Linked DNA regions of Homo sapiens. The protein of the gene in region 1 purifies or fractionates together with the protein of each later gene. This does not show direct contact. Each region holds a gene or a part of one and is shown on either strand. Other genes may lie near its edges. The genes, in order: CKAP5 and TACC2.

Region 1 (9,725 bases):
TCTTTTCTTTTTTAGACAGGGTCTCACTCTGTCGTCTGGGCTGGAATACAGTGGCACAAACATGGCTCACTGCTGCCTCCACCTCCCAGGCCCAAGTAATCCTCCCACCTCTGCCTCCCAAGTAGCTGGGCCACAGGCATGCACCACCACTCCCAGCTAATTTTTTTTTTTTTTCCTAGATATGAGGTCTGTCTATGTTGCTCAGGCTGGCTTTATATTTTACAGCTTTCGTTTCGCGACCTTTGTGATCAAGCTAACACTTCTAGTTATCTTGTAGCAGTGCCTTCTTTCTAATTTAGCAATTGATTTAAAGAACCAAGCAGGCTGAAATTGTGCATAGAAGAGTGAATAGAATCTGTTTGAGAGAAGTCAATAAAATAAAATATCAACTAAAAAAATAAAAATAAAGTATAAATGAATAATCATCCACCATTATCCTTTAAAATACATATATATATTACCTGGCTGTTTTGGCTGAGAAGGCCTAGAAACACTGACACCCCACTAGCAAGGAGCAGACGGCAGAGTATCCAGATCTCGGTTTCTAAATACCAAGCAAAAGGAACCAGAAATCTTTGGAGAAATGTCTAATTCTAGGGTTAGAGCAGAGAAAATAAAAGATGAGCCTGGAGCATATTAAAGTACCAGAAAATAAGAAAGTGTTCAAAAAGAAAAAAAAAATTAAAAAGATGGGGGCATGTCAAAGGGACACAGGAGCCAACCAAAAAGAGCTCCCAACAGTCAAAGCTGGAATTATTCGACGGAAAAAAATAGATTATAAAATCTCAAAGTACAGAATAAATATACACAAGCCAATACACACTCACACATACACACTAGTCCATAAGATACAAACAGTGGAATAAAGCAATAAATGGGTGAAAAGAGACAAATCTTCCTTACAAAATTCCGAATATATGTAGATACCCTTAACTCCGGGAAGTGGAATCTAATCCCTTCACCCACTTTGGGGGTGGGCTAGACCTGGCTACTCATTTTCATAAGAATAGCTATAGAAAGGGAAAAATACTAACTTTAATACTTAACCTAGCAAACACTAACTTAATCAAGTGATCATGGTTAATATCACTAATGATGTCACATGGATATCACAAAACCCCTGATATGATATGGTATTCTATGGTATTCTTTCCAAAAACACGTAATTCTTGACTAATCATGAGAAAAATATCAGACAAAGACAAAGAGAAGGGCAGTCTACAAAACAACTGACTAGTACTCCTCAAAATGGTCATGGTCATGAAAACAAGGAAGGACTGAGAAATTGCCAAAGACCAGAGAAGGCTAATAGAGATGACCACGAAGTGCAATATGTTACCCTGAATTGGATCCTGAAACAGAATGGGCACATGAATAGAAAAACTGTTGAAACACAAACAGAATCTGGAGTTTGTTTAAACGATGTTAATAACAGGGCACACTGGGTGAGAGGTATGCAGGAATCCTACACATCATCTTTGCAACTTTTCTGTTGGAACAATCTATAATTATTCCAAAATAAAGTTAATTTTTAAAAAGTTTCCTCTTAAAAAACTAACATTTATTTTCAAAAAAGGTAATGTCGTGAAAACGAATAATTTTAAAAAGTGAGAACACTAGGTCAGGCACAGTGGCTCAAACCTATAATCCTAGCATTTCAGGAGGCTGAGATGGGAGGATTGCTTGAGGCCAGGAGTTTGAGACCAGCCTGGTCAACACAGTGAGACCCCATCTCTTTAAAATAATAATAATAATAAAGTGGGGACACTACATACCTACCAGAAGGGCTAAAATCCAAAAACCAGATAGAACTAAGTGCTGTTAAGAACGTGGAGCAAGAGGAACTCTCATTCATTGCTAATAGGAATGCAAAATGGTACAGCCACTCTGGAATAGAGTTTGGCAGTTTCTTACAAAACTATAACTAGTCTTACCATATGATCCAGCAACCTGCTTCTAGGTATTTATCCAACTGAATTAAAAATTTATGTCAGCTGGGCACAGTGGGTTGTACTGTTAATCCCAGCACTTTTGGGAGGCCAAGGCAGGAGTTCGAGACTTTTATGACATAAAGAGTGAACTTTAATGTATGCAAATTTTAAAAAGTCATTTAGGAGACTGGGAGATTGCAGAAAAGAATGAAGACTATGACAAGGGAATCTATATTACAGATGTGTGAAACAACTTCACCAAAGGGGGTGGGAAAAAGGTTCTGACCTAAGTAGCTTTGGTAATGAGTGGAGTCTGAAAGATTAAGGGCAAAAGGAACTGCACAGAAGTATGTACTCTAGTTGATAAAGTTTTTTTCATGGAGTATGGGTTAGCAATTCTGATACTGCTATCCATGTATGTATATCCATATATAATGGAACTGGACAATTAAATAAATGGATGGTGGAAATTAGGTTTTTCACTATTGTGAATGGAAATTCAAAGATCAGCAAGGGGAGGAGGCTAGAATGATCTATGTGATAATGGATCAGAATTGGAGACACCAGTAGGAACTCATGTTTTTCCCCCCCGCCCATACTACTGAAAGTGATCTATGGAACTCGTTTAACTTAATATAGACACAGATGGCTACATAGAGAAATATTTATAGATATGTCTATATACATGGGGTTAGCATACATTCATATATTTCTTTGCTCTAACAGTTGAAAGGACCTAAAAGAAATGACACCCCAGTAGCAAAGAGAACACTCAGTACCCAGGTCTTGTTTCTAATAGCATTCTCCAATAAGGGAACCAGGGCACCTTGGGGAAATGGCTGATTCTAGCACTGGGACAAGAAATACACAAGATGAGCCTGGAACATTTCCAGATAGTAAGGAAGTACTCAAAGATCAATACAAATACGCGCACACACACACACATGTATGTTAAAGGAATACAGGAAGCTCCCAAAGGACAAAGCTGGAACAACCTGAACAACAAAATAATGTAATATTGGAGTGTAACCTAAAATATAAAATAAATATACTTGAGTCCACACTATTATCAGTAAATACTTGACTAAACTAATAAATGGGAAAGGAGAGACAAGAATTTCAAATAAATTAAGTAGGTACTCCACCCTAAGATCAAGGAACTCCCCATTCCTTAAGTGTGGGCTGCAAACAGTGACTTCCCTTCAAAGAATACAGTATAGAAAAGGAGGGGAAAAAAAAGTAAATTCACTGTAGAAACCTCACAAACACTATTTCAGGTCAATATGAACAGTCAAGGTCAATATTAAGTCATAAATCATGTTGATAGCATGTACCCTTGATATGATGTGATGAAAATGGCACTTTACCTCTGTGGTCTTCCTGCCCAAAACCTGTAACTCCAGTCTAATGAGAAAAACATCAGACAAATTCCAATAGAAGGACATCTTACAATGTATTTGACTAGTACCTCTCAAAACAGATTAAAATTTTTTTAAAAAATTCAGATGTATAATTTTTCTAGCTTTCTTAAAGACTTTCTGAACTAGTCTAAAATAATTTTAAGACTAATTGAGACTGTTAAGATACTGCTTACACCCAAAAACACAGGAACAAGCCTGGTGCAGTGGCTCACACCAGTAATCCCAGCACTTTGGATGCTGGAGCGAGAGGATTGTTTGAGGCCAGGAGTTCAAGACCAGCTTAGGCAACATACTGAGACTGTGTCTCCACAAAAAGAAAAAAATGACAGCCAGACACGGTGGCTCACGCCTGTAATCCTAGCACTTTAGCACTTTGGGAGGCCGAGGCAGGCAGATCACTTGAGTCCAAGAGTTCAAGACCATCCTGGGCAACATAGTAATACCTTGCCTCTTCAAAAAAAAAAAAAAAAAAAAAAAAAAAAATTAGCCGGGTGTGGTGGCACTCGCCTGTAGTCCCAGCCACTAGAGGCTGAGGTGAGAGGATCCCTTGAGCCCGGGAGGTGAAGGTTGCAGTAAGCAGAGATCAGGCCAACACACTCCAGCCTAGGAGACAGAGTGGGACCCCATCTCAAAAAAAAAAAAAAAAAAAAAAAAAAATTGCTGAGCCACCATTGTCGCAACATTTTTAGAATATAAAAATAAAAAAAAATAAATAAAGACACAGAAACACAGCCAACTGAATAGTCAGATACTGTTTTTATCACTTTTTTGTTCAGAGAAGATGATGCCAGTTTTGGCCAATTTTGTTCAACAAATATTTTTGACCACCTAGTTTGTTGCAGGCATTGTTGAGTCACTGAGGTAACCTCAAAGGAAAAAAAAAATCTATGTTCTGCTTTCATTTTTATGAGAAAATCTAACAATATATAGACAAACAATAAACAATTACATAACAATATATGCTATGAAGTAAATAAGGAAAAGTGAAGTAAAAGTGACCAAGAGGGCTCCTCTAATTCAGAGCTCAGAAAAGTGTCTCTTTAAGGAGATGACATTTAAGTTGAAGCCTGAGAGTGCCAGTAATACAGGCTGGGGGTAGGGGTAGAGTGAAGTGAGAAGTTCCAGAACAGAATGCAAAGACCGAAAAGAATAAGCGTAATGTGTTGGAGTTATACACATCAAGTAGGTAGAGTAACTGCCCTGATAGAAATGAGCTAAGTAATGTATTCTAAACTCCAGAGGCAAGAATAGGAAAATCATTTAAAAACCTTAAAACTCTCCAACATTGACTACCAAGAATCCTAATTAGATTAAGAACTCAATTTTTATGCGTCCCTTTAGCTACCCACCGCCACCACTGTCACAGTTGTCCATCTTCCATATGGTAAATGCCATCTTTCCTCTAAAAACTATCATGCCTGTCATTCATATTTCATCACATCTCCGATAGAAGTACTTTTTTAAAAGGGGCTGGGGGAATTCTACCCAGAAATTGCTCCTGAATTCTCCTACAGATCCCTACTTCACGTAGTACAATCATAGGTTAAGAGCAAAGGCCCTGGAGACAGACTGACTTGGGTTTGAATTCAGATTCTATCACTTAGTTCTATGATTTTGAGCATGTTGCACAGCCTTTTAAAGACTCAGTTTCCTCATCTGTAAAACATTGTGAGGATAAAAAAAGATAAAATGTAGCGGGACATGTTGGCTCATGCTTGTAACCCCAGCAATTTGGGAGGGTAAGGAGGGCAGATTGCTTAAGCCCAGGAGTTTGAGACCAGCCTGAGTAACATGGCAAAACCCCATCTCTACAAAAAATACAAAAATTAGCATGTGCCTGTAGGCCCACCTACTTGGGAGGCTGAGGTGGGAGGACAGATTGAGCCCAGGAGGTTGAGTCTACAGTGAGCCATGATCACACCACTACACTCCAGCCTGGGCGACAGAGTGAGATCCTGTCTCAAAAAAATTAATTAATTAATTAATTAAACAAAATGTGGGACCCAGTAGGCATTCAATACATGTTAGCTACTGCTAGTAAAAGTATCTGGGCATGTATTTTATTCAAGGACCAGAGCTGACCCCAGAGGGATTACAGAAACTATAATTTGCTACAGTAAATTGTTTGACAGATAAAACTGTCAAACTCCCTTAGGTCAGGGCCTTTGTCTTTTTCTGGTTCACCAGTGTATTCCCTGAATCTAGAACAATGTGTGACAGACATTAAGCATCAATCTCAATATCTGTTCAATGAATGAATAAGACCCCATTAAAGGAGCATAAGAGAGCCTGGCTTTACCTTAACATACTCATTCCCTGTCAAAATTTTTAACACTTATCCTAAGGCACTGTTAAAGTTGTTTATTATTTTTAATTGCTTACCAAAAACCTAGAACAGTGTTCATAATATTAAGGTACTCAAATTTATTGCAATTAAAACTTTGCTGCTGGAGAAGCTGAGAGCTGAACACATGGTGGTCCCTGGAGCGTGGTGTGCCCAGAGAGGGCATGGAAGCTCCATGCCTCTTCCCCTATACCTCACCCTATATAGCTCTTTGTATCCTTTGCAATATCCTTTATAATAAACTGGCTGGAAAATGTGTTTTCCTGAGTTCTATGAACAGGTCTAGCAAATTAATCAAACCCAAGGCAGGGAATGGGGGGCGGTATTAGGAATGCCCATTTTTATAGTCAGCCTACAGAAGCACAGGTAAAAAAAAACCTGGGGCTTCAGATTGGCATCTGAGTTGGGGGCAGTCTTCTGGGACTAAACCCTCAACCTGTGGGATCTGACACTACCTCCAGATAGAAAGTGTCAGAATTGGCCAGGTGAGGTGGCTCATGCCTGTAATCCCAGCACTTTGGGAGGCTGAGGCGGGCGGATCACTTGAGGCCAGGAGTTCAAGACCAGCCTGGCCAAAATGGAGAAACCCCGTCTCTACTAAAAATACAAAAAATTAGATGGGTGTTGTGGTGGGTTCTTGTAATCCCAGCTACTCGGGAGGCTGAGGAAGGAGAATCTCTTGAACCCGGGAGACAGAGGTTGCAGTCAGCCAAGACTGCGCCACCGCACTCCAGCCTGGGCAACAGAGCAATTCTGTCTCAAAAAAAAAAAAAAAGGTGTCAGAATTGAACTGAATTAGAGGACACACAGCTAGTGTCCACTGCTGAAGAACTACTTGCTTGGTGTGTGGGGAAAAAAATCTCACACATCTGAGGTCACAGAAGTTTTCTGTATTGTGAGAGTATAAGATAAACTTATTAAAGTTTCTTATTCTATATTCTCAGAATTGGCGTCAGAATTGGGATTTGCTAGAATGACTTGGCTCACAGACACATATGGTTTGGGAAGAAAAAGGATAAAAGGATAGGGATAAAGAACTTTGATTCTTAGGTGGCCAAGTGGTCACCCATGGTAAAGAGCTGAAGCTGTGCTGTCATCAATTACTAAAGGTAAAAGTTATCCATGGAATCCAGAGATGGATCCAACTGCCTGGGAGTTGGTTCACAGGATGCACAAGGAAATGCAAACTAGTATTAAAAAAGTGATATGCTGGCTCGGCACGGTGGCTCACGCCTGTAATCCCAGCACTTTGGGAGGCCAAGGCAGGAGGATCACGAGGTTAGGAGATTGAGACCATCTGGCTAACAGTGAAACTCCATCTCTACTAAAAATACAAAAAATTTAGGCGGGTGCTGTGGCTCACGCCTGTAATCCCAGCTACTCAGGAGGCTGAGGCAGGAGAATCACTTGAGCCTGGGAGGCAGAGGTTGCAGTGAGCCGAGATCGTGCCATTGCACTCCAGCCCTGGAGAAAGAGTAAGACTTTGGTTCAAAAAAAAAAAAAAAAAAAAAGCGAAATGTTAAATCCCTTGGTTATTGTTATCTGTAACAGCTAAAATGAAATTAAAAGAAAGTGGTGGGTTGGACCTTCCCGCTAGACCAAGCTCAGCTTTCAGTGAATGTGAGAGCTTAGGCCACTAACCTCAAAGCTGTCCCTCAAGGGAAAAATGTATGCCGGGACAACAGAAAGTGCTTCTAAGACCTCTGGTAACAAAGAAGGTGGTCTGCAAAAATCAAAGAACTATTGAAACCAGGGGGTACAATGTGAAGGAATTGTTTCACTTTGTACATTAGTATCATAAGCTTCCTGAAGGGGACAGTCTGATTCCATAAATGCCAAGTGGAACACCCCAGATCCAGATAGAGCCACTGATATACTTCATATGCAAGCCATGTGAAACTGGCTTTATGATGACTAGGACATTTACCCTCTGAATATGCCCACTACCCAGTCATGGTAAATGCTGTGGTTAAGGGTGACCCCTTAATGTGGATAACCTTACTGTTGCAAAATCAAAAGACAGTTCGAGAAGCCTTATCAAATGTGCTGTCTCAGTTTCCTCTCGTGGGTCTTACAGATGCTAATAAAACCATTAGGTTAAGAGAATGGTGAGACAGAGGGCAAATGGATTCAACCCGGAAGGTGGAAATTTTTAAATGGTTATTAAGAAGTAAGGTAGGCCGGGCGCGGTGGCTCACGCCTGTAATCCCAGCACTTTGGGAGGCCGAGGCGGGCGGATCACGAGGTCAGGAGATCGAGACCATCCTGGCTAACAAGGTGAAACCCCATCTCTACTGAAAATACAGAAAATTAGCCGGGCTTGGTAGCGGGCGCCTGTAGTCCCAGCTACTTGGGAGGCTGAGGCAGGAGAATGGCGTGAACCTGGGAGGCGGAGCTTGCAGTGAGCCGAGATCGCGCCACCGCACTCCAGCCTGGGTGACAGAGCAAGACTCCGTCTCAAAAAAAAAAAAAAAAAAAAAAAAAGAAGTAAGGTAGCAGGGTGTGGTGGCTCATGCCTATAATCCCAGCACTTTGGGAGGCCAAGACAGGATGATCACTTGAGCCCAGGAGTTCAAGACTAGCCTGGGAGCCAAAGGGAGACCCTGCTGGTCTCCCACCATTAAGGGGTTCCAAACAAGTTTGCTATATTTACCCCAGTTTGGAGAAATTGTAAGTCAGGAGGCAGATTACAATGAGAAATCTGATCTGAAATTGTGGAAACAATAGGTAGATGAGTCAAGATAAAGACTGGCAAATGGGCAAGGGTCTCTTGGCTCAACCACCTGCTGGGGACCCCAAGCCTTCTGTATATAAGTAGGTAAAATGGTCAGGGAGTGGCAAAAAGAAATTCCTGGGACTCCTTCATATGGAAGCCCCAGGTACAGTAGTACCAAGAGCCATTGGTGAAGCCCCGAACAGGGCTACAGTTAGATTAAGAGAAGGCCAGGCGTAGTGGTTCACGCCTGTAATCCCAGCATTTTGGGAGGCCGAGACAAAAGGATCCCTTGAGCCCAGGAGTTCGAGACCAGCCTGGGCAACAAGGCAAAACCCCATCGCTACAAAAACTAAAAAAATTTGCCAGGCATGGTGATGCACGTCTGTAGTCCCAGCTACCGGAAGGCTGAGATGGGAGGATCACCTGAGCCCTGGAGGTGGAGGCTGCAGTGACCCATAATAGCAGCACTGCACTCCAGCCAGGGCGAAAGAGTGAGATCTGATTGAAAAAAAAAAAAAAAAAAAATTGAGAGAACACAAAGATGTAAGTGTTGACAGAACTATGAAAGTTGGAAGCTGTGTCTCCTATATGTAAATGTGTTTTATTAGGAATGGATATTATGTCTGGCTGGGGAACACTTCCCCTACCTAGTATTGCAAAAACAAAACCTGTTGATAAAGTCCTAATAGAAGCTACAGTTAGAAAAGTGAGGGTTAGCCAGGTGTGGTGGCTCACACCTGTAATCCCAACACTTTGGGAAGCTGAGGCGGGTGGATCATTTGAGGTCAGGAGTTCGAGACCAGCCTGGCCAACATAGTGAAACCCTGTCTCTACTAAAAATACAAAAAATTAGCTGGGCATTGTGGTGCACACAAGAAGTCCCAGCTACTTGGGAGGCTGAGGTGGCAGAATCGCTTGAACCCAGGAGGCAGAGGTTGCAGTCAGCTGAGATCGCACCACTGCACTCTAGCCTGGGCGAAAGAGCAAGACTCTGTCTTAAAAAAAAAAAAAAAGGAAAAGAAAGTGAGTGTTGATGGAATTAAGATAAAAGTTTACAGGAGAGTTGGTATATTCAAACACACTTCATATGAGAGCATAAGAGCTCCACACCCTTCTCCCATACCTACAAGCCCTACGCCTCTCTTCATCTGTATGCTTTGTAGCATCCTTTACAATAAACCGTGAAGGTAAAAAACAAACAAACAAACAAACAAAAAACACCAAAAAAACAGGTGCTGCTAAAACTGAACTGTCAGTAGTAGAAGACTGCGATGGAATTACCACACCCACTGTTCATAATTCAAACATAATTC
Region 2 (9,725 bases), on another chromosome or scaffold:
GAATCATGCCCTCTCAGCAAGCCTGGGGTGAATCTCTGGTTTGAGGCTTCATTAAAAGGTGTGGCCATAGTGTCTGAACACAGTATGGGGCCTAGGAATAACGGTGGCACCAAGCGAGTCCAGGTCAGTGACCTACACTGAGAGTTTGACTTGAATGACACTCCCTTGGAGCTGTGTTTATCAAAATCACAGAGGGGACATAAGCCATGGGCAAAGCTCGAGTGGGCGCTCAGGACCCACTCGATGGAGTCCTGAGGTGGAGTTAGAGGGCACCGTGCTGGCTCTTAGCAGGAGTCTTGGGTCAAGGGACAGCTGCTTTCAAGTCTCAGGCTGTTTTCAAACACAGCCTGAGCTGCAAGTGCAGCGGGAGACGTGCAGACGATCTCACAATGATGATCACGTGGTTACCTGGCTGAGAAGTTTCTCTCCTGGCCTTTGGCTCCCTAGGGGCAGGATTCTCCGAGGCAGAGTGGGGGTCCAGCTGGCTACAGAGTTGCTTACCCTCAGTGGGTGAACTGAATTTGGTCTCGTTTACAAAGGTGGACAGGTCCGAGGGCTGCGGGTAGTCCTGTTTGTCAGCCTCTAGGTCCACTGTCATGCACGTCCACTTCTGGTTGGTGACCGCCAGCTTTTCCTCATCTGTGGCGTGGACCACCGCAGAGATCACTGGTGGTGTTTCTGGTGTAGCAGCTGGGGTGGGGTCCTGCAAAGAGAAGAGAAACTGTTTCTTGTCTCATCAGACTCTTGGTCAGAAACTGTGCCCACCCTCAGGTCTGGGGACCCATTAGCCAGGACAGGTCCCGGTCACAATCCTCTGCATGCTCTTCTCAGACTCTGCTCCAAATGGTCCATTAAGGAAACAGATGGACACACAGATTCTTCCCTCTATGAATCTCCTTTTATGATGGTTTGTTTCAGGGAATGACCATGAATTTAAAAAAAAAAAAAATCAGGATTTTGTGTCTTAGTTACTTGAGCATTCCTGCTAGTTTTACGACTGTGACTGCTGTGCGAGGCTCACACAGTGCTTCAGGCCTGCACATCAATATCACCAGAATCACCTGACAAGCATCTCATCAGTCCCTGGAGGCAGAAAAAGGGGGATCTTATCTCCATTTCCACTGGAGAGTGGGAAGTGGAGTAGGGCAGGGTGGGAACCTAGAGAGGTCAGGACAGAGCTGCAGCTGGGACCTGAGCCCCTATCCCCAGGGCTGAGTGCTTCCCTCCACTGCCCCCACTCTGGCCAGGGTCTGCAGGCTGGGGCTTTGCTGGCTCAGATTTGGAGGGGTGGCAGGTCTGTTTTGTTTTATGACCCAGAAATTAGCCCTAACATACTGACAGGCTTGACGATAACTTTCCTTGGTCTGTAAACAGGGTAGAAGAAATGGAATCTATCTGATGGAGGAACTGGTAAGAGGGACTCTAATCAAGACAGAACCTAAGCCCCACTTCTTTAGGGGAGGGGCTTCCCTTTTCTTCCCACTCCAATTTTGGCTGCACAATTCAGTGCTCCTGACACTTGCTGAGTTTCTTCACCTTCTCACTGCATATTTGTTCATCTCAAGAGACTTTCTCATCTCGACAGTCCTAGAAGTTCACAGCAGATGAACTGGCCTGAATGGAGCAGAGTGGGTCCTCCAGAGCCCAACTAATGTTTTTCCTGAACGTCTTCCCACTCTCGGGACACACTCTGATCTTCCGCAAAGTGAAGGGACCAAAACAATGTGAAGCAAACATCGAGGGACCCTCCACACAGAATGCAAGAAGAGGGTCTTGGAAACAGGCCCGGGATGAGCAGAAAGCAAAGCTTTGTCAACAAGCGAAGAAAACCTCCCCCGGGGGGGGCATAAAACCATCAAGATCAAAGGAACACTGTACCTGGGAAGGTGGATCAGAGAGAGGAGACCGTTTTGGCGACTTTTTCACCCTAAATGTGTCACTGGAAACAAAATGGAAAACGTAAACACAACAAGCAGAGGGACGGAACACTCCAGAGCAGTACAGAGCGGACCGAAGCTACTGCCTCTGCGGAGCCATCTGGCCCAGGCCACCCTCCCACCTCTGTCACTCCAGCACCAGCGAGAGGCCACGCCGGCTACCCACTCTCACTTTTTAACAGCTATTATTTTTGCCCCCAAGGGAAAGATCCATCAAGCTGGAGATCTTTAAAGAGATGCCATTTTGGAGAATGACCCAGAAAATGAAGCTAAATTTAACTAAATGTTCGTATTTTATAAAGCAAATTTCTGGTGAGCAGATTAATTTATCTGGATTCTTCCAGGGGTATCTGAACCCAACTAAGGCTAGGGGAGGGGCTCTAGGCTCAGGACACCAATTTACAGACGGGCAAGGCGACACCTCACTTAATGAACAACTGAAGGGGGCCACGCAGAAATAGAAAGTTCGGGGTCCTCAAGGAGAACCTCCTGAATCCTCCCTATCACAGGATCTTTGAGCTCAATGGATTCCCATGCTCTGAAGGCTTCTAGGTGGAATCCTGACTAAAGGTAGGGCCAGGGGAGAGATGATTTTTTTTGTCTTCTCCTAACCATGGTAAACAGACAAGATTCACAGCTCTTCTCTCCCTTTTTCTCCTCCATATGAATAGCGGGGCTGAGAGGCAAAGGAAACCACCAAATCAGACTCCTGAAGGGTCAAGGAAGCAGATCCCAGGAGAAAGGGATGCCTTTTAGCCTGAGCAGTTCCATTAAGTCCACCGAGCAGTCTGGGGGTCACTTCCACAGTCAGAATGGGGGCTCTTTCCACCCTGTAGACTGGCCCCTGCCCCGTCTCCAGCCCCTCCATGGGTTGGTCCCACTCCCAGCAAAGCAAAGGCTTTGGGGGGTGATCCCTCTCCTTAGATCCCACCACCCTCCCCTGCTTTGCATGTTAACTGGGTGGGCAGAGCAATTTGGCATTCAAGTTCCTTCCTTGTGTTCTCTCAAATCACTCCAACAATGGCATTTAATCATGAAAAAAAAATAAATGGCTATTTACAGCATTTATAATATTTGCCATTAAAACAGTGCAATCGCAGCTTGAAGCATATATTTATTCATGCATATAAATATATAACCATATATTTTATAGTTGCTAAGTGGCTCAAAAATACTCAAGAAATCCCTTGGGCAGAAGAGAGTCTGATGGACTCGACCCTATCCTGGGACTGCTGGCCACCTGGACTGGCCGGCTTCCCTTCTAAGGACAGGGAAAAGTTGCATGTCTTTGGACCCCCCCGAGCTGCCCACAGATCCCTCCTGGCCATGGGAGGCAAAGCAGCAGAGGCACAGAAATGGTCAGCTCTGTTTCTACTGACAAGTGGCAGGGTGACCCACAGATGGCAGACAAGGCATGCCGACACCCAGCCAGGTCCTGGGTGACTGAGGATGCAGGACTGGGGCAGCCTGGCGATGGCTCTCACAGCTGTGTGCTCCACTCTGCACTGACCCTGCATTTCAGGGCACTCTGTGGGCCTCAATTTGGAACGGCCCAAATATTTCTGCTTTACATGTTAGCAAGAATAAGCTGTGGCCGTCGCTGCCTGTGGTTAGACCAGACAGTTATTTTAACGTGAAGCCACAGTAGTGTTGAAAGCAATCGCCCACTAGCCCAGTTTAAAATGAAAAAATGTAATGAAGAGTTTAAAAAAAATGTTTGATTTCAGATGAAGACATCCAATATGCAAGGGAAGGAAAAAAGTTCCATTCCTGATAAGCAGGCAGATGCTGGATAATCACATTTTCACAGCCAAGCAGTCTCTTATGCAAATCACTATGAAACAGAAAAGTAATCTTTGCTACTGGGGAGCCCCATGCCCCATCATTCGCAGGCCCACCACAGAAACACATCAGTAGCAGCCAGAGGGGAAATAAAAATGGCTTGGAAGCAGAAACAAAAGGCAGAAAAATAAGCACATTTGGCATAAGAGGCAGATTGCATTAAATTTACTTACAACAGAGAACACACAGACATCACATCTTCAACCATCCTAAGACAAGAAGACAAAGAAAAAGAGAGACAGACAGAAGGAACTGACAAAAAAGATAAATCTGCAGACAACTGGTTATTAATGGGTTAGGATATGGCGGCCACCGCTGTAGGGCAATGCCCCAGCTTTTTGGAAGGAGCTGCTGGGGAACAGCTTCCTCTCTTGATCCTAATGATCCCACAAAGCCGTGGTGCCCCAAGAGCTTTGTCAGACCCACGCAGGGTCTTCCACGCCAAAGTCCCTGTCTGCACTAGAGGTGAGGACACAGTTGGGTAAACTTCCCTGACCCCTGTTAGCTCTAATATTCAAACAAGAAAGTGACTGGGGACGCCTATGAGACACAGAACATATCTTGGAGAAGGAAGAGGTGGCGGCTAAGGTTGGCTCTCATTCCAGATGAGAGAGCACGGCCTTGCAGTCTAGCCATTGCAGACTTCTCCTATTCCAGGCTTGAAATCAAGTTTCCAACGTGAATTCTAGAGAGTCTCTAGTAGGGACCTAGTTGAGTAACTGATCTAAAACAAAGTCCCCATTTTGGCCAGGATGGCCTCCAGCCACCACTAGACAGTGGCAGGTTGATCTAAGGTAACCTGCTGTAGAGACCTCCTCTCAGGAGGCCCTGGGTTCTTCTCAGAAATTCAATGTTAGGGGGAGCCCAGAATGGGAGGTAAACATGTCGTTCTGTCTCTTTCGTGCCAGGCAGACCCAGAGGGGCCAGCGCTGTGGTCTGTTCTGCTGCCCCTGGGAGACTGATCTCCTCAGCCTTGTTAAATTACTGACAATACTTCCCGTAAGAGTAAGGAAATCGCCAAGATATTAACCACAGGGGCCAAAGAATAAAGGACCAGCAGCCATCCACATTAGAGCCGGGTCCTGGGGTGGATTCTGGAGGCATGGGTGTTTGATATTTAAGCACGATGTACTTGGCCTTGTCAAGTGTCTGGGGACCATAGAGCCAAGGACCAATGGCTTCCTGGGGATTGTGGGGATTTGCTCCCCACTTTCAGGTTCCATTTATCTCTTCAGAACTTGCAGGGACTTTGTCTACAAAAGATGACTGGAGAGAAGGAAGGAGACAAAGAAGGGTGTTTCTTACGGGCTGGTTGGAGTGCAGCAGGGAGGGGCCCAGGCCACATCTCTCATTCCTGAGCCTCCTGGAATCTACTATGTTTGTAGGTTGGGCTAATGTCTCATTAATAGGCAGAAACAAGTACTATACATTTTAATATTTTAAAGGGTGTATCTCCCAGCTTCTCCAAAAAGCAATCAGTCACCAACAGGGAGATGAACCAGATCTCTAAGGACCTTTCCCCTTCCATGGGATCTCCCAGATTGCTCTGGAGTTGAACATTAGGTCTTTGGCTACAAGTAAAGCTCCAGCCCATTGATTTATTAAAGCAAAAGATCAAGGACACAAAGGGGTATGTGGATGGGAAAATGCCACCACTGTGACCGCAGAGAGGAAGGAAAACACGTACATTGTCTGCTTGGTGCAACGGCCGTAAGCGTGGCATCATCACAGCACCCAGGGGCAAGGTTAGGGCAGTCGAAGGTTATCCAGGCACATGACCAAGGGTCACAGCCAATGCGCACCCCCGCCTCTGATCCTTACCACCTCCACCCCTGAACTTACGTCTTTAGGGGCGTCTTCTTCTTCTTGGCGGGCTTGTTTAGCCCATCCCCGTCCACTCCATTGGCTTCCATAGCACTGGCTGGGATCTCAAAGGAGGCTGGGGATTTAGAAGGTGAGCTGGGGGTCTTAGAGGATGTCTTAAAGGGGTCAACGGACTCATCACAGGTGTCTGGGTCAAAGTTGTATGATTGTTGGGGCAGTTTGGGAGACTCCTGCATTTTTGAGGTGGAAGAAAAAGGGTTAAAATTGGGGTCATCCCACTTGTCAATATCAAAGGTGTAAGTACCTTTAGCAATGGGGATGTCATTGGGTTCAGCAGGGGATCTGGGAGGTGAGGCAGGAGTGTTGTCAAGTTTCTCGGGTGTCTTTTTCATCTTTGGCCTCCTCAGGGGCATTTTGGCAACTGGCTTTTTGCCTATCTTTTTGGTAGGAGGGGGGTTTTCCTGCTGGTTGTCCCAACTACTCTTGTCCTCAGAATAGTCAAACTCCAGCCTTACGGAGAGCCCTTTGGCTGGAGAGTCCTCTTGCCCCCCGCTATCCGATGGGGTTACCTCCCCTGCCTCCGGGGCCGTGGTAAGAGGCAGCGTTTTCCTCCCGACAGGGGGTGAGTTCTGCACTCTGCCACCTCCAGAAGCCGGGGGGACAACCCCTTCTGCACTCTCTGAGTCCAGAGGGCAGGCAGCTTTGGGCCCCACAGCGGGCTCAAGGGGCGTCTCCTCCAATAAGGCTGGGCTAGGACCTTCCGTCTTGGCAGATTCCGTTTTCGTCTCAGATGCTAGATTCTCCCCACTGGGGACAAGGCTCTCTTCATCTGGCTCCTGTTGCGTCTCCTTCACTGGGGGGGTCTCTGTGGGTTTCTTGGTGGTCTGTTTCTTTTTTAAGGAAGGCGGCCTCGGTTTTTTAGTTCGCTTAAGGGTACTAGAAGCACTGCTGGAACCCGTGCTATATGCATCTGGGGCAAGGGCCACGGCCTCGGGATTGCCTGAGGAAGAAGCACCATCAAAGTCACTGGCTTGCAGGCTGAGCGACCGGGACAGTGTAGACTTAGAGATGGGGACGGAATCCGTGGACTTCCTCCGTGTGTTCACTTTGCCCTCCTGATTCTTAGCGTCTGAGGCACGAGGCTCCAAGGTCTGAAAGGTATCCACAAGCTCAATGTTGTCAAAGTCCAAGTTGTAAGTCCCACTGCTGGCTATCGGCTTGTCTTCATCGAAGACGGCAGAGAAGGAGTGTGACGGGGGACGGAAGGGACTTCCTTCCACCGAGTCGCTCCGTGGGCCATCAGGGACAGGGACTGTCTCAGAACCACATCCTGGGGAAACACAGACAACGCCATCAATTACAGACACAGGACGCATTGGGGCACCTCTCCTCTTGTACCAAAACATCACCCTCCAGCGTAGGGGTTGACAAACCACGGCCCCAGGCCACCCCGCCCATCACTGTGTGTACTACTTGGGTACAGAACCTGACCTACCCGTAATTAGCTCAAGACCCAGGCCAGGTTCGCCCAGAGTTCCCTCATCTGTACAATGAGGATCATGAGGACCGATTAAAGAACAGCTCAGAGTATTCATTCAAAAACATTCACCAAGTGCCTAATCAGGACCAGACATGGTTCTAGGTACTAGAGATTCAACAAGGAACAGAAATAGACAAAACCTTTCCCTTCCTGGAAGTCACATTCTTCAGGGGAAGATAGCGAATAAACCACCAGGGCCGGGCATGGTGTCTCACACCTGTAATCCCAGCACTTTGGGAGGCCGAGGCAGGCAGATCACTTGAGGTCAGGAGTTTGAGACCAGCCTGGTCATCATGGTGAAACCCAGTCTCTACTAAAAAAACACAAAAATTAGCCAGGCATGGTGGTGAGCGCCTGTAATCCCAGCTATTCCGGAGCCTGAGGCAGGAGAATCGCTTGAGCCTGGGAGCCAGAGGTTGCAGAGAGCCGAGATTGCGCCACTGTACTCTAGCCTGGGTGACAGAGTGAGTGAGACTCTGTCTCAAAAACAAACAAACAATGTACAGAATTTCAGAGGGTGATACATGCTAAGGAGAAAAATAAAGCCGGGATAGGAGAGTTTCACTTTTAAAATAAGGTAGTCAGGCAAGATCTTCTGAGGAGACATCTAAGCAAAGGCCAGAATCAAGGTAAGTGCATGAAACAGGAGGACTCCTGGGGAGGAAGCATCCTGGGTAGAAGGAATAGTGCGAGTAAAGGCTCTGCGGCAGGAGCACCTGGTGCGTTACAGAAACAGCGAGGAGGCCAGTGTGGCTAAAGCAAGGGTCAAGAGTGGGACAGGAAGACAGAGAAATCCTGCAGGAAGGCATACGGAGGCTTCCATAAATATTCATACTAGCCACGGCCACCAGCAAGCCTGTTCTTGACTCCTCAGAGCCACTGTGAAGATCAGGGGAGCCTGTACACGGAGGCCCCCGGCACCTGTAGTAGCACTTGCTGTCTGCCACCTGCCGCTCCAGCCATCACCTGTAACCTCTCCTTCAGTCCTGCCTGCCTATCCTTGGCCCTGCCTCTTGCCTAGTCTCACTGCTCTCCCAGCTGCCTCCTCTCAGCTTTTCTACCTCATCAGCCCCTGCCAGTCAAGGAGGTTGCTCCTATTTCCCAAACATGCTGCAGATGCTGCAAATGTTGGCCAAATGATGCTCAAAGGTGCCACCACCCTACTGCCCATGGGGATCCGGCCAGCCCCAGCTTTGGCTTGGCTACTCTAGGTTCTGCTGGCACCCAGCGGCATCTTTCATGCATTTCTGAGGTCACAGCTGCTCCAGGCAGTCAAGGATGCCAGAAAACTAAAAGTGTGTCATTGGACAAGAGGGCAAACACGATAAAGCGGTCTGCAGGCCTAAGTACTGGGAGATGCAGAATGAGGAGTAAACGGAGCTGGCACAGGTAAGACCTGGGACAGCGTTTCCAATGTGTGCCTCGTGACAGGTGTTATGTACCCCCAGTCCCCTTCTGCCACCGGCATGGTTGCCAGACAAAGGACAGGATGTTCAGCTGATTTGAATTTCAGATAAATGAACATGTTTTTTAATATAAGTATGTCCCATGTCTCGATGATTCTTTGTTTATCTAAGATTCAGATTTAATGGGCACCCTGTATTTTCATTTGCTAAATCAGGGAGCCCTATCTCTCATCCCAACAAACAAACAAGGTTTGGGAAATGCACAATTAACCCCTGAACTGGTCTCTTCCTGTCGATTTTCTCAGAGCAATTCATGCTCCCGACTGCAAATCTCTGGGCAGTGAGTATTCTGCAGAGTGCTTACCAAGCTTTGCTCATAGCAACCTTTCTCCTGGAGTACCTGGCAGAGAACTCAGCTCACAACACAAGAAAACTTCAAGGTTCTTGAGTTCAGGAACTGGCCTTGGCTTTGTTTCCCCCTTGACTGGTCACACTTTCTTACAGGATCAATAAACGCTTGGATTGAAAGCATCATTTGGAAGCACATCTATGAGCTAGTCCTGGTTTCAAGCCTCTCACTCTCCTCTTCTCCACCCAGGGCCTACCTGGAGCAGACGCCCTAAATACGGAGCTCTTTCTACCAAACGGTTTCTCCAAACACTCCTTCCTTCTCATTTCAAAAGGTGTTGCCTCGCTTCTTTCTAAAATCAACTCCCTGTTTCCTCTAGGCCCTAGTACTCTCAAGTACCCCATCCTCCCACCAGCCGTGACCTCCTCTTCCTGCTCTGTAATTGCCCCTGGATACACGGAGGGAACAGAGGACCAGGGGATGCTGAGGGGGACCAGGTGCTTTCAAATGGGCCTTGGCAGGAGGAAGCACGAGCCTCAGCCTATCCCGTCGTCAAGGCCCACAAACACCAACCCTCTCCCTCTCAGGCCGTTACACGTGCCTCTGCAGCCTGCAGAAGGAAGCCTTCGGAGGCCCTTCAAATGTCAGCAGTTATCACGCAACAATGAGCTTAACCATCTGCTCATTGCTTCCTCCAGAAGAAAGAGCTCCCTGCCTGCTTAGCATGGCTTTCCTCTTTAGAACTGACATGCTCTCATTAGCTCATCATGAACCAGGAAACCTAATCTTGCTGCAGGGTTTCTTATCCTTGGCATTATGGTCATTTG

What was found.
Region 2: the proteins of CKAP5 (region 1) and TACC2 purify together in Homo sapiens (affinity purification with mass spectrometry, with the first as the bait; 2 studies listed by BioGRID). This does not show direct contact.

The regions. Positions count from the first base shown.
Region 1 is NC_000011.10:46,834,812-46,844,536, forward strand, and holds part of CKAP5 (cytoskeleton-associated protein 5), read right to left. Parts: intron 1-9,725. UniProt on the Homo sapiens protein: Binds to the plus end of microtubules and regulates microtubule dynamics and microtubule organization. Acts as a processive microtubule polymerase. Promotes cytoplasmic microtubule nucleation and elongation. Plays a major role in organizing spindle poles.
Region 2 is NC_000010.11:122,207,605-122,217,329, reverse strand, and holds part of TACC2 (transforming acidic coiled-coil-containing protein 2), read right to left. Parts: intron 7,457-9,725; exon of another isoform or gene 7,361-7,456; intron 6,934-7,360; coding exon 5,622-6,933; intron 3,989-5,621; coding exon of another isoform or gene 3,953-3,988; intron 1,940-3,952; coding exon 1,879-1,939; intron 704-1,878; coding exon 502-703; coding exon of another isoform or gene 409-501; intron 1-408. UniProt on the Homo sapiens protein: Plays a role in the microtubule-dependent coupling of the nucleus and the centrosome. Involved in the processes that regulate centrosome-mediated interkinetic nuclear migration (INM) of neural progenitors.